2 linked regions of the Homo sapiens genome follow. The protein of the gene in region 1 purifies or fractionates together with the protein of each later gene. This does not show direct contact. Each region holds a gene or a part of one and is shown on either strand. Other genes may lie near its edges.

Region 1 (7,349 bases):
CTTCCGCGTTATTTCTCAACCATACTGACAGGTCTCTCCTCCAAGGCTTTGCATGGCTGTTCCCTCCGCCTGGAACACCCTTCTCCTAGATCCATGATTTCCTCCCTCACTTCCTTCAGGCCTTTGCCCAAATAACCCCCTTTTAGCTCTCCGAAATGTCCCAAATATTTGCCAAATATCCCCCTTTCAGCTCTTCCCCTGGCCATCCCTTTTAAAACTGAACCCCTCATTCTGTTTGTCCTCTTCTGACCTTATTTTTATTTTTTATTTTTTTGAGACAGAGTCTCACTCTGTTGCCCAGGCTAGAGTGCAGTGGCGCCATCTCGGCTCATTGCAACCTCTGCCTCCCGTGTTCAAGTGATTCTCCTACCTCAGCCTCCCGAGTAGCTGGGATTACAGGTGCCCGCCACCACGCCTGGCTAATTTTTGTATTTTCGGTAGAGACGGGGTTTCACTATGTTGACCAGGCTGGTCTCGAACTCCTGACCTCAGGTGATCCGCCTGCGTCGGCCTCCCAGAGTGCTATGATTACAGGCGTGAGCCACTGCTCCTGGCCAATACCTTATTATTAGTATTATTTTAAATCACCTGAGATGCTATATATTTGTTTAATTGTCTGCCGCTCTGTCTTCCACAAAAATATAAGCTTCCCGAGAGCACAGACTTTGTCTTCACTGCTGGTTCCTGGCACATAATAGATGCACAATGAATACTTGACTGACTAAATGCACAACTGAGTTACTGGGTGTGAGTAGATTATGTAGCCCAGTGCCTGGAGTGCGGAGAAGCTGCTCAGAAAAAGCAGAGTATCAGGCTTCCGCCCCCGGACGATGGCCAGGTCTCAGGGTATCATCCCCGCACACCTGATGCAGTGGGCGGCAGTGAGGACGAAGTTGCTAGCAATCAAAGTCCCGCCACACGTATGCCTCCACGTGTCGTTCTTGAGGTACTGGAGGGAGATCTGCAGGAGGGTGGGGAGGGCTGTGTGTCAGCCTGCAGGTCCCTGGGACCCTCACCCCGCCACCCTCTCTATCTGTACCTCCCAGCCCTACACAGGCTTACCTGCCAGGGCCAGCTGTGGGGCCGGGCATCCTCTCCTCCCACCACTCGGGCGGATAGGTTGGGCGGGAAGCTGGGCACCCCACAGCTGGAGGCTGGGGAGACAGGAGGCCAGAAGAACCAGTGAATAGGGCTGGTAGCCCACGGGGAAAGGGGTGGGAGGGTGGGCAGGTGGAAGAAGCACAGAGTTGGGGCTGGGCAGACACGGGGTTGATATTTTACTGTGTCACGGGGGTAAGCCACCCAGGTCTCTAGGCCTTGTTTTCCCTTTCTGTGAAATGTGAAGAATCACACTAATGCGGTGAGTTTGCCCTGAGAACTGAATTAGACAACACATAAAAAAGAAAGCGTTTGGCCGGGCACGGTGGCTCACACCTGTAATCCCAGCACTTTGGGTGGCCAAGGCGGGTGGATCGCTTGAGATCAGGGGTTTGACACCAGCCTGGCCAACATGGCGAAACCCTGTCTCTACTAAAAATACAGAAATTAGCCAGGCGTGGTGGTGCATGCCTGTAATCCCAGCCACTCAGGAGGCTGAGGCAGGAGAATCGCTTGAGCCTGGGAGATGGAGGTTGCAGTGAGCCGAGATCGTGCCATTGCACTCCATCCTGGGTGATAAGAGCAAAACTCCATCTCAAAAAACAAAACAAAACAAAACAAAACTGGCTGGCATGTGTGCGAGTGCCCGGTACACCTGTGTTCTTCTGTCTGTTTTTAGGCCCCTGCATCATGGTGTGTGTGTGAGAGAGCAGTAAATCCACTGTTATAGCTGGGAAGCTGTGTGGAGCGGTCAAGAACACGTGCTGTTCCGCGAGACAGACGTGGACTCAAATTCTGCCTCTTCCACTAACCTGCCATGTGATGTCAGGCAAGATACTAAGTCGCACGGAACCTCGATGTCCTCATCTGTAAAATGGGGCTATGAAAAGACCCTACCTCTTTTTCTTTCTTTTTCTTTTTTTTTTTTTTTTGAGACGGAGTTTCACTCTTGTTGCCCAGGCTGGAGTTTGATGGCGCGATCTCGGCTCACTGCAACCTCCTCCTGGGTTCAAGCAATTCTCCTGCCTCAGCCTTCTGAGTAGTTGGGATTACAGGTGCCCGCCACCACGCCTGGCTAATTTTTGTATTTTTAGTAGAAACGGGGTTTCATCTTGTTGGCCAGACTGGTCTCAAACTCCTGATCTCAAGTGATCCACCCACCTCGGCCTCCCAAAGTGCTGGGATTACAGGCGTGAGCCACCATGCCTGGCAATAGACCCTACCTCTTAAGGTTGTTTTGAGGATTAAATTGGCTCCTACATGTAAGGGGCCTAGCATAGCGTCTGGCACATAGTAAACACACAGGAAACAGGAGCTGCTATTATTACTGTTGTTGTTGTTAGCTGGAAGGACTCTTCATTAAGTGCTCTCCTTTGCCAAAAAAGTTAGTGAGATTTAGAGAGGTGAAATGACTTTTCCAGGTCCTGCAGAGAAGAAGTGGCATTTAAGCTAAGTCCCTGGGCTCCTAATCTGGGAAAACGCCACCAAAATGATGGAATGGAGAATCCTCAAGGGAGAGAGAATGCTGGGAAAGGCAGACCCCGATGGTCCCTGGGGTGAACCCAGGATGAGGCATCTCGTGTCCCTCCCCCTTGCGTGGTGCTTTCCACACCTCATTTCTAACTGGGGACACGTCAGATCATCTTCCCTGTTTTGCAGATGTGGAAACAGAGTTGGCAGGCAGGCTGTGGCTTGTCTGACACACAGCTGGTTGGTAGCATCTGAACCCACAGGGGACCCCAAAGTGTCTTACCTGGAGAGCAGAGGCCCCCCCACTCCCCATCCCGTCCTTGCCCTGGAGGCCAGCCCGAGCTCACAGCCTGCTAGCTGCAGCCCCACCCCACCGCTTACCACAGGCCAAGAGCGCAGCGAGGACAGTGATGCCCAACATGGTTAGGTGCTCAGGACTGGCTGACCATCGGGATGGGCTGGGGCACACTTATAGGCAGGAGCAGGTGAGTGCACCTGGTCAAGGCCAAACCGCCCCTTGGAGAGAAACCTGCTCTGATAAGGCCCTTTCCCTGACCTTGGGTGGTTACTGTTTAATTTGGGCAGGAGACAGGGCTTTCTTAGAAGTATGGATTTTCCAAATATCCTGAAACAGAAAATTCTGAGTTGCAGTGCTTTTTGGCATCCCCCACCCCACTCTGTTTGACGTGTGTGTTCATTCTCTCTCCCTACCTTATACTATTTATTTATTTATTTGGAGATGGAGTCTTGCTCTGTTGCCCAGGCTGAAATGCAGTGGCACAGTCTCAGCTCACTGCAACCTCCACCTCCCGGGCTCAAACGATTCTCGTGCCTTAGCCCCCTGTGTAGCTGGGACTACAGGCGCCTGCCACCACGCCAGGTTAATCTTTTGTATTTTATTTATTTTTTTGAGACAGGATCTTGCTCTGTCACCCAGGCTGGAGTCTCAGCTCACTACAACCTCCGCCTCCCGAGTTCAAGCGATTCTCCTGTCTCAGCCTCCCAAGTAGCTGGGACTACAGATGTGTGCCACCATTTTTTTTTTTTTTTTTTTTTTGTATTTTAGTAGAGACAGGGTTTCACCCTGTTGCCTAGGGTGGTCTTGAACTCCTGAGCTTAGGCAATCTGCCTACCTCAGCCTCCCAAAGTGCTAGGATTACAGGTGTGATTACAGGCCGTTACCTTATTCTTTTTAGTTATTTATTGGGCACCTACTGTGTGTCAGGCATTGCGCTCAATTCTTCTTGCATTATCTCACTTAATTCTTCCAACAACATGAAATAGACGCGGTTATCTGCTCTGAGGTGAGATGAGAAAGGACCAGGCGCAGTGGTGCATGCCTGTAGTCCCAGCTACTCCTGAGGCCAAGGTAGGAGGATCGCTTGAGCCCAGGAGTTCGAGGCTGCAGTGAGCCGTGATCGTGCCACACTGCATTCCAGCGCGGGTGACAGAACAAGACCTTGTCTCTAAAAAAATAAAATAAAAGTGAGGAAGCTGAGACTCAGCGGGTAAGTGACCATCTAGGGTCACACGGCTGGGCAGCAGCAGAGCCAGACTTTGAAGCCAAAGCTTCTAACACCAGCCTGGGGCTTCAAGCTGTGGAGACATGCTGCTCCTTCTCTGCCTTTCTAGTGCTATTGGATCGCTTCCTGGCTCTCTCTCTGTCTCATCTTTCTAATTGCCTGGGCTTGATGCACTCCTGCACCTGCCTCCAGGGCTGTGGTTGGAGGCAGGGATGCAGCAGGCTCTGGAAGGTGCTTAGTTGGCCAGATTCCTTCCTGGAGTCAGCTTAGTTGTAGGTCCTCAGTTTCCCCATCTCTAAAATGGGCAAAAGGACCAGATGGACTTTCAGGCTCCTTTCAGTTCTACAATTCTGTAACTTGAATGTCAAGGTCAGTGGCAGATCTGAGGGCCCAAAGCACTGAGTAGCAGAAATTCTACCAGAGCCTCCGGCATTCGGGGTTGGCCATCCCTTGGAACATGTGGTTTGATCCATTCGCCCCAAGGCCTGGCCTCAGCCTGGTTGGTTAGATTCTGTCTTTCGTTTCCCCTCTACTCATACTGAGCTCCCCTTGAAGGTCATTTTCTGAGCTGGGCCTACTGGCCACCTTAGGAATTCCTTCCTGATAGAAAAGTTCAGAGCACTACGCACCCCGCCATTCATAGCGGTGATCTGGGGGTGAAGGAGGATTCTAACTTACACTTTTTTTTTTTGAGAGTCTTGCTCTGTGGCCCAGGCTGGAGTGCAGTGGTGCGATCTCAGCTCACTGCAACCTCCACCCCTGGGTTCAAGCAATTCTGCTTCCTCAGCCTCGCGAGTAGCTGGGATTATAGATGTCCACCACCATGCCCGGCTAATTTTTGTATTTTTAGTGGAGACCGGATTTCACCATGTTGGCCAGGCTGGTTTGTTTATTTATTTATTTATTTTTTGAGATGGAGTTGGAGTCTCGCTCTGTCGCCCAGGCTGGAGTGCAGTGGTGCGATCTTGGCTCACTGCAACCTCTGCCTCCCAGGTTCAAGCAATTCTCCTACCTTACTTAGTCTCCTGAGTAGCCGGGACCAGTGCCACTGGCTAATTTTTGTTCCTTTTGTAGAGACGGGGTTTCACCACGTTGGCCAGGCTGGTCTCGAACTCCTGACCTCAAGTGATCCACTCACATAGGCCTCCCAAAGTGCTAGGATTACAGGTGTGAGCCACCATGCCTGGCCTCTAACTACACATTTTTATGCAGCTTAAATTCTTTTTTAAAACAAACATAGTTACCTTGGTAGTATAAAAATCAATAGGTTTAATTTTTTAAGAAAGATAAAAGTGGGAATGTGCACTGGGGGCTCTGCTCAGCTATGGTGACATCAAGGCCTCAGTCCTGGGGTGTCTGGGGACTTCAGCCTGCGGGGAATTTTCTGTTTCATTTTGGAGGTTGGTTGTGCATGATACAGGTTTATCAGTGGCTACTGGCCAGTCTGCTTCAGACCCAGGGCTTTTGGTTGCCAAGCCTTGCAAAGGGTCATTCTAGCCTGGAAACTGGGAACATAAGCAGAGATATGGCTTGAGCTAGGTGATAGGTCTTGGAAATTAGCAGGGTCTGAAGCGGGGAGACAGGACACCTGGTTTCCATCTCAGTGACAGAATGGATGACCCAGACCCTGAGCAACCTCTTTGAGCCTCAGTTTCTCTCATGTCCCTTGATCAACTTGGGAAAATGAATTAACTGGGCGTCTCCTTGTAGGAGCTCATCAATTTATACTCAGAGATACAGCAACTTGTTAGCACGCATCTCAGCTGTGTATACATGCCCATGGATTCACAAGTATACGTGGACAGGCGACGCACACACGCACATACACACACACGCACACACACATGCACACACACATGCACACACATGCACACATGCACACACGCACACAAACACATGGACACACACGCACACACACATGCACACAATGCACACACCCACGCGCACACATGCACACACAAACATACACACACATATGCACACATGCACACACGCACACACACACATGCACACACACGCTCCTCCACGTCCACAAATATGCACACACCAATGATATAATACATATAAAGCATTCGGTTATGTGTAGAGCCAAGCAGAGCCATGGGCCACCCATTCAAACATGTACACAAACATAGAAATAGCCAAATGGATTGATGATGAGGTCCCAGGTGAAGAGAGTTATTGTCAGCTCTTTGAAGGTTCACAGAGAAACTGACCTTTTTGGAGGGAGGTTGCTGGCTGCTCAGCTATAGGGAAACTTGCTTGTTTTGAGACATCTACAGGGAGGGACCTTTTATGTAAGGCAGCACCAAACAATTGTCCCTGGAGAAAACCGAGGTCGCCCTTAATCTGTTTCAGATGCTGAAGACAGGATGTTGAGTGCTTTGCTTAGGGTTGAACTAAACCCACCACTATTGCTTCATAGCTCTATGGCCTTATGCTTGTGACGCAACCTCTCTGTGCTTCCTCGTTTATAAAGTGAGAGTGAAAACGGTACCTTTGGCCGGGCACGGTGGCTCATGCCTGTAATCCCAGCACTCTGGGAGGCTGAGGTGGGCAGATCACCTGAGGTCGGGAGTTCAAGACCAGCCTGGCCAACATGGTGAAACCCTGTCTGTACAAAAATACAAAAATTAGCCGGGCATGATGGTGGGTGCCTATAATCCCAGCTACTCGGGAGGCTGAGGCAGGAGAATTGCCTGAACCCGGGAGGCGGAGGTTGCAGTGAGCCGAGGTCGTGCCATTGCACTCCAGCCTGGGTGACTGAGCAAGACTCCGTCTCAAAAAAATAAAAAGAAAAAGAAAGAAAATGGTACCTCCCTCCTAGGGCTGTTGGAAGAAGTGCCTGGCATATGGCAAGGACGGTCTAAATGTTTGCTATTACTATTATTATTGTTGTTATCTGGTTCTTATGAGAAAGCTTGAGACTGGACTTGGTCACTGAGTACTTTTGCCTTCATGGGCCCCTTTCTCCATTTAAAAAATATTAAAAACTGGCTGGGCATGGTGGCTCGTGCCTGTAATCCCAGCTACTCAGGAGGCTGAGGTGAGAGGATCCCTTGAGGCCAAGAGTTCAAGACCAGCCTGGGCAACATGGCGAGACCCCTGACTCTAAAAGAATTTAAAAAATTACCTGGGTGTGGTGGCACATGCCTGTAGTCCCAGATACTCTAGAGGCTGAGGTGGGAGGACTACTTGAGGCCAGGAATTTGAGGCTGCAGTAAGCTATGATCATGCTACTGCATTCTAGCCTGGGTG
Region 2 (7,191 bases), on another chromosome or scaffold:
GGAAGAATGAACTACGTCATGGAGAAATTGGACGGCTCATACATTGTTAGTGGGAATGTAAAATGGTACAGCCACTTTGGAAAAGTCTGGCAATTCCTCAGAAGGTTAAACAAGACCAGGAGTGGTGGCTCACACCTATAATCCCAGCACTTTGGGAGGCCAAGTCAGGAGGATCACTTGAGGCCAGGAGTTCGGGACCAGCCTGGGCAACATAGTGAGACTTCATCTTTACAAAAAAATAATAAAATGACCTGGACGTGGTAGCAGCTTGTGATCCTGCAGGCTGAGGTAGGAGGATTTCTCAAGCCCAGGAGGTTGAGGCTGCAGTGAGCTGTGATCATGCCACTGCACTCCAGCAATCCAGCCTGGGTAGCAGGGCAAGATCCTGTTTTTTTTTTTTTTTTAAACCCAAACCCAAAAGGTTAGAATTTCCATATGACCCAGCAATCCCACTTCTAGTATATATGAAGACAAATGAAAACATGTGCAAACAAAAACTTGTACATGGATGTTCATATCAACATTATTCATCAAACCCAAAAAGTGGAGCCAAGTGTCCTGCACGTGTGAAGTAGATAACATTTTGACTTGTGCCTTTCCTACTCCAAGAGCCTCAGGCAGCATCACTGTCTGAGGGCTTTCAGAATGCCTTATGCATAGGCATATATTCCTACACCACATGACATCTGACCGGGGACCCACTTCACAGTGAAGGAGGTGCAGGGGTAGGCCATGATCACAGAATCCAGTGGTTTTATCCCTTACAATACGAACCCAAAGCAGCTGGCCTCATAAAGGGTGAAAATGGCTTACTGAAAGCACAGCTGAAACGCCAGCTTGGATGCAATTTCCTGCAAAGATGGGGCCATCTATAAGGATGCAGTATACGCCCTCAATTAGAGATGTCAGACTTGTTCCCACGTAGGAAGAATATATAGGTTCCACCAAGAGGTGGAAGTAGAAGTAGCCCCACTTACTATTACTCCTACTGACTTACTGGGATTTTGTTCTCCCATCCCTGCAACTCTGAGCTCTGCAGAGCTGCAGGTCCTGATCCACAAAGGGATGCTGTCTTTCTGTGGACACAACCAGGGTCCCATTGAACTACAAGCCATGGCTACCATCAGGGCACTTTGCATTCCCTGTGTTCAGGAACCAGAAAGCAAGAGAAGCCTCTAACCTGGAGGGAAAATTGATGCTGCTCAGCAGGAAGAGTGTCAGATGTCTTCTCAAAACTGCAGTGGCACCAACTTTCACAGTAAAAGCTTACCAGAACATCCATGACTTGGCCCAATGTTACCTTTCTGTTCTCCTTTCATCCATGACTTGGCCCAATGTTACCTTTCTCATCTCCTTTCCTTTCTTCTCTCCCCCTTGCTCACTCCACTGTAGCCATGCTGAACTCTTTGATGTTCAGTGAGCAGACAAGCTGCTTTCAGGACTGGGGTCTTTCATCCTCCCAGCTTCATGAGATAGAAGGAGCAAGAAAGGCTACAAAATGCAGAAGGAGCTCACACGTGAGACGGAGGGTGAGAGATATTTTATATAATTACACTAATTCGTACGAGCTGATGGCTGAGTTGGACTTTTTACCTCTTAATTTTTAGAACAAGCCTCCTCACTGACAGGAGCAAAATATTAGAGTGGAAAATATTGATGAGAAATCTCTCATCGATCTCATACTCATTGATTATTGACTAAAAAGTTAGCCTGAGACAAAAGAATGATCGTCCTGGAGAACCAACAAAGTTCCATCTTTCATAATGATTAGTAATAGCAAAGTTATTTTTGAGATATGTTAAATGTCAGGTACCAGGCTACACCTTTTATATACTTTGTGTTATTTAATCCCCATAAAATCTATAAGAAAAAGGAATTATTATTCCCATTTCACACACGAAGAAATAGAGGCTCAGAAAGCTGAAATAATTTGCCTAGGTCATACTTCATGTAAAGTGGCCAGCTTTAACCACAGCTCTTTGTGAGTCTAAGACCTATATTATTTTCTCCACAATTTGATTCCCCTTAAGAGAAAGAGATAATCGTTACTTCATTTGTTCATTCACTTATCCATAATTTAATAAATGTTCACTGAGTGATCATGTGCAGGCTTGGCCTGATTTTGCTGATACAGTGGCAAACGAATAGGCTCCTGCCTTACCTTCATGGAGGTTATAGCCTAATGGTATAGCTGGACCAGGAATCAAAGAAGTTCAGGTCTCTGAAGCGCAGCTGACACAGCATGTGCTGAGACTGATATTTGAAGGAGGCGAACAAAGATTACCGTTGACCTAGACCTTGACTATATATTATGCACAGTAAATACATACAACCTTGGTTAAGGCATTGACCTTTTAGCTTCATCAATTTTGAAATGAGTATAGTAATAATACATTTCTTGCCAAGTGGTTGTAATCTCAAATGAGAAAATGTGTGAAAGGCCTTGGCAAACTGTAAAATAGTCAACAAGGAGAAAAGGCCTTTTTTTTTTTTTTGAGAGATGGTCTCACTTTGTCACCCAGGCTGGAGTGCAGTGGCACAATCATGGCTCACTGCAGCCTCTGCCTACCAGGCTCAAGTGATCCTCCTGCCTCAGCCTCCGAAGTAGCCAGGACCACCGGTGTGCGTCACCATGGCCAGTTAATTTTCTTAATTTTTTGTAGAGACAAGGTCTTGCTGTGTTGCCCAGGCTGGTCTCAAGCTCCTGGCCTCTAGCGATTCTCCTGCCTCGGCCTCCTAAAGTGCTGGGATTACAGGCTTGAGACACGGTGCCTGGCTGGTCTTTTCTTTATGCTAAAAAAATTCAAACAGATGCTACATTAGAATAGTGCAATAAACACCCAGATGCCCATCAACCAGCTATGACAGTTATCAACTCATGGCCAATCATGCTTCATCTTTAGCCAGACCCTGATTACCCATTTTTTGGGAAGCAAATCTTTGACTGCCTATATTTTTATCCATATATATATATGTGTGTGTGTGTGTGTGTGTGTGTGTATACCTCAGTGAGTGTGTGTGTACCTCAGTGAGGGGATTCTTTTAAAAAATATAGCCACAAATACCATTATTACTCCTAAAAGCCTAAAAACAAAATTTACAGCAATTCCTTAATTTTATCAAATATTATAATTTGACTTAGTGGTTAAATTTCCCTGATTATCTCAAAAATTTTGAACTCAGTAGGTTTGAATTAGTATTTAGATAAGGTTCACATATTGCAGCTGGCTGCTATGTTTTTTTTTTTTTTTTTTTTTTCAGATGGAGTCTTGCTCTGTCCCCAGGCTGGAGTGCGGTGGCGCCATCTCGGCTCACTGCAAGCTCCACCTCCCGGATTCATGCCATTCTCCTGCCTCAGCCTCCCGAGTAGCTGGGACTACAGGCGCGTGCCACCACGCCGGGCTAATTTTTTGTATTTTTTAGTAGAGATGGGGTTTCACCGTGTTAGCCAGGATGGTCTCGATCTCCTGACCTCGTGATCCACCCGCCTCGGCCTCCCAAAGTGCTGGGATTACAGGCTTGAGCCACCGCGCCCGGCCTGCTATGTTGTTTTTTAATCTGTAAGTTTCTCCTTCATCTTCTTTTTGTTTTGGTTTTGCATTTTGTTCGATTACGGAACTGTAGAACAGTGGTTCTTAAACTTAAGTGTGGATTAGAATCATCTGGAGAGCTTGTGAAACCCTGGATTGCTGTGTCCAGTCCCCACGGATTCTGATTCCGTATTGTATTTCTCTTTTTTTTTTGAGACGGAGTCTTGCTCTGTCGCCGAGGCTGGAGTGCAGTGGCGGGATCTGGGCTCACTGAAACCTCCGCCTCCCAGGTTCAAACGATTCTCCTGCCTTGGCCTCCCGACTAGCTGGGACTACAAGCGCGCCATTACTGGGTCTTTGTGAGGATTAAATGAGATTTTAAAAAGTGAAGTGCTTAGCATAGTACTCTGGCACTTACCAAATGCCCAGCAAATTTGACTGTTATTTTTCAACCAAGAAATCATAAAGGGGTGCACGGTCTGTGGAAGGCCTTGAGTTTTGTGGAGTTTTGTGTTTTGCTGCGTTTTGACGTTAGCACAGGCAAGCAGCAGCGCCAAAGAAGTACCTGAAGAAAGGTGAAGAGCAACTCTCCTGGTCACTTCGTAAGTCAGCTCAAAATTCTGCCCCTTTAAGGAGGGCTCAGCCACGTGACCAACCGGGTCACATGGCCCGCGGGACAACATGGCTGCGCCCGCACTAGGGCTGGTGTGTGGACGTTGCCCTGAGCTGGGTCTCGTCCTCTTGCTGCTGCTGCTCTCGCTGCTGTGTGGAGCGGCAGGGAGCCAGGAGGCCGGGACCGGTGCGGGCGCGGGGTCCCTTGCGGGTTCTTGCGGCTGCGGCACGCCCCAGCGGCCTGGCGCCCATGGCAGTTCGGCAGCCGCTCACCGATACTCGCGGGAGGCTAACGCTCCGGGCCCCGTACCCGGAGAGCGGCAACTCGCGCACTCAAAGGTGCTCCATCGATTCCTCCGAGGCGGGTGGGGGCTGCTCGGTTCCTGGACGGGGTTGGAGTAGGCAAAGCAAGGCACTAGTAGGAAGGGAAGTAAAGGTTATAACCACACCCCAAATCGAGCACCTGCTGTTCCCGTATGAGGAGTTCCTTCTCCGTGCCTCACCGGAAGACTCCATTTAATTGACCATTAGGGAGTTTGGTTTGAGGGTTATTGTTACTTCTTTACCCCCTATTTCTTTCTCCCTCCAACCTGTTCTCTTAATGAGGATCTCATAATTTTAAGGCAATCAAATTATGGTTTAAATCACCATTTCCTCTCTTATTAACGGAATAAATTAGGATCCTGGGTCTCAGTATCTTCACCAGGGTTGTTGTATACTTATCTGTAGTCTCCTCGAGTACACTCTGCTTGAGGACAAGGGCTTGAATTGTTTATCCTGCTATTCTTAGCACTTTAGCACTTAGGAAGGGCTAAGCAAACTGTAGTTGTTTTATTGCTATTATTTATCTGTCTTGCTTAGCGCCTGTATGTGTTAGGTGCCGGGATATATAAATAACTTACTGGCCGGGCGCGGTGGCTCACATGCCTGTAATCCCAGCACTTTGGGAGGCCGAAGCGCGCGGATCACGAGGTCAGGAGTTCGAGACCAGCCTGGCCAACATGGCGAAACCCCGTCTCTACTAAAAATACAAAAATTAGCCGGGCGTGGTGGCGGGCGCCTGTAATCCCAGCTACTCGGGAGGCTGAGGCAGGAGAATTGCTGGAACCCGGGAGGCGGAGGTTGCAGTGAGCCGAGATCTTGCCACTGCACTCCAGCCTGGGCGACAGGGCGAGACTCCGTCTCGAAAAAAAAAAAGAAAGAAAGAAATAACTGTTACTTCAATCTGTCTGCCCGGTATTTTGCATATTGATGTGTTGTCGAAACAACTTATGGGTCTAAAGGTCAGGTCTTCTGACTCCTAAACTAGTGCTCCTTCTTGTTTACTTAGCAGACACTATCCTTTTCCCATTCCATTTTTCTTTCCTTTGGGTTAATCCTGACCAATATTTAGGACTTAGGTGAGAGGTAACATCCACAGTAGGTTTTACCTGATCTCCTCTTTCTCTCCCCTTCAATATTTCCGTATCCTGCCTCAGTAGTTATGTGTTTATTCTGACATAACAATTATTAAAGATGTTTTTCTGCTGATGTCTCTCCCCAACTGGACTGTGAGGGTGATGGGGTCAGGACCATGATTTAGTCTCTCAGGTGTAGAGTGTAGGAGGTTGATACCTGGGCTTCTCATTGTTTTTCCATCCTGTATAATTTTTGGCCTTTACTTTTTTTCCTGTTACCCTTAGAGCATGTCCTGCAGTACTGTTTATCTTTTGTGTGTTGAAGACTCCTGATTACTGTTTTAGTGTGTATTGGCCATACTTGATATTAATTCCTCTCTAACTTGCCTGGTAATTGATAATCAATCTCTCTTTCTTTTTTCTTTTCTTTTTTTTTTTTTTAGACGGAGTCTCGCTCTGTCACCAGGCTGGAGTGCAGTGGCGCGATCTCCGCTCACTGCAATCTCCACCTCCTGGGTTCGAATGATTCTCCTTCCTGCCTCAGCCTCCCAAGTAGCTGGGATTACAGGCACACGCCACCATACCCAGCTAATTTTTGTATTTTTAATAGAGATGGGGTTTCACCATGTTGGCCCGGATGGTCTCAATCTCCTGACCTTGTGATCCGCTTGCCTTGGCCTCCCAGCGTGCTGGGATTACAAACGTGAGCCACCGCGCCAAGCCAGTCTGTCCCTCTTTCTAAGGAGAAATCCTTACATCTGTTTATCTATTTTTTAATAGGGCAGCCATCTCATTTGCATATATACATTGGTCTGTCTCAAAATTTTATCTAGATTCCTCTGGCAAGCATTGAACATTTTTCATTTTTAAACATTCTATTTTCCTCTGGGTTCCAGAATGGGATGTGGATGTTAGAATCTTTTGGATTACATTTACAAGATGTACATTTTTCATCCCTATAGAGTGGTTTTGTGTCTTGACTGGATGCTATATGGGCCATCTTTGGCCAGTTCTTATAGTCTGCTTTCTACAATGCTTAGGGGCATCTCAATTTATTAACAAATTAGTGGTTGATGAGAATATACCTTCAAGCCTTCAAGGGCTGAACTTAATGACTGAAACTGAAGCAGTCTTGTTATCAAGACAATGACGTCATAGGAGGCTGTTCTTAATCTCTCTATTTTCCTTGGTTTCAAATGTTTTAGTTCATGTGCAGATGACTTTGGTCTAATTCTGACACTTTACCATTTATTCTAAATTCAGGAACTCCAATATTTCAGGAGAAGTAAATGAGCATAGTGGTGTTTCTGCCTTTTTTCCCCTCTTTGTTTTCTGTTTATTTGGTTTAATTAAACAAATGTTTATTTGGCACATTACTATATAACACTTGTTATGTAAGATTCATCCTATGTGCTGGGCATACAGAAAAAGACCCATACACTACCCACATGGCATTTACACTCTGGTAGGTGTTTCTCTCTCTCTCACACACACACACACACACAAACACACACAGACACACACATAAGTATCATTTTTCTATAGTGAGAATACTATAGGAGGGATATGTCCAGAGTACCTGGAGAGGAAGAAAGAATTAATTCTTCATGGACAAGTCGAGTAGTGCCTCAAAAAAAAAAAGGCCACATTTG

Evidence for each region. Proteins that work in one complex are often made in the same cells at the same time.
Region 2: the proteins of CTRC (region 1) and SUMF1 purify together in Homo sapiens (affinity purification with mass spectrometry; 3 studies listed by BioGRID and IntAct, with this or other methods). This does not show direct contact.

The regions. Positions count from the first base shown.
Region 1 is NC_000001.11:15,434,105-15,441,453, reverse strand, and holds the start of CTRC (chymotrypsin-C preproprotein), read right to left. Parts: upstream 3,012-7,349; 5' UTR 2,990-3,011; coding exon 2,950-2,989; intron 1,155-2,949; coding exon 1,063-1,154; intron 962-1,062; coding exon 864-961; intron 1-863.
Region 2 is NC_000003.12:4,464,266-4,471,456, reverse strand, and holds the start of SUMF1 (formylglycine-generating enzyme isoform 1 precursor), read left to right. Parts: upstream 1-4,187; 5' UTR 4,188-4,211; coding exon 4,212-4,481; exon of another isoform or gene 4,482-4,633; intron 4,634-7,191.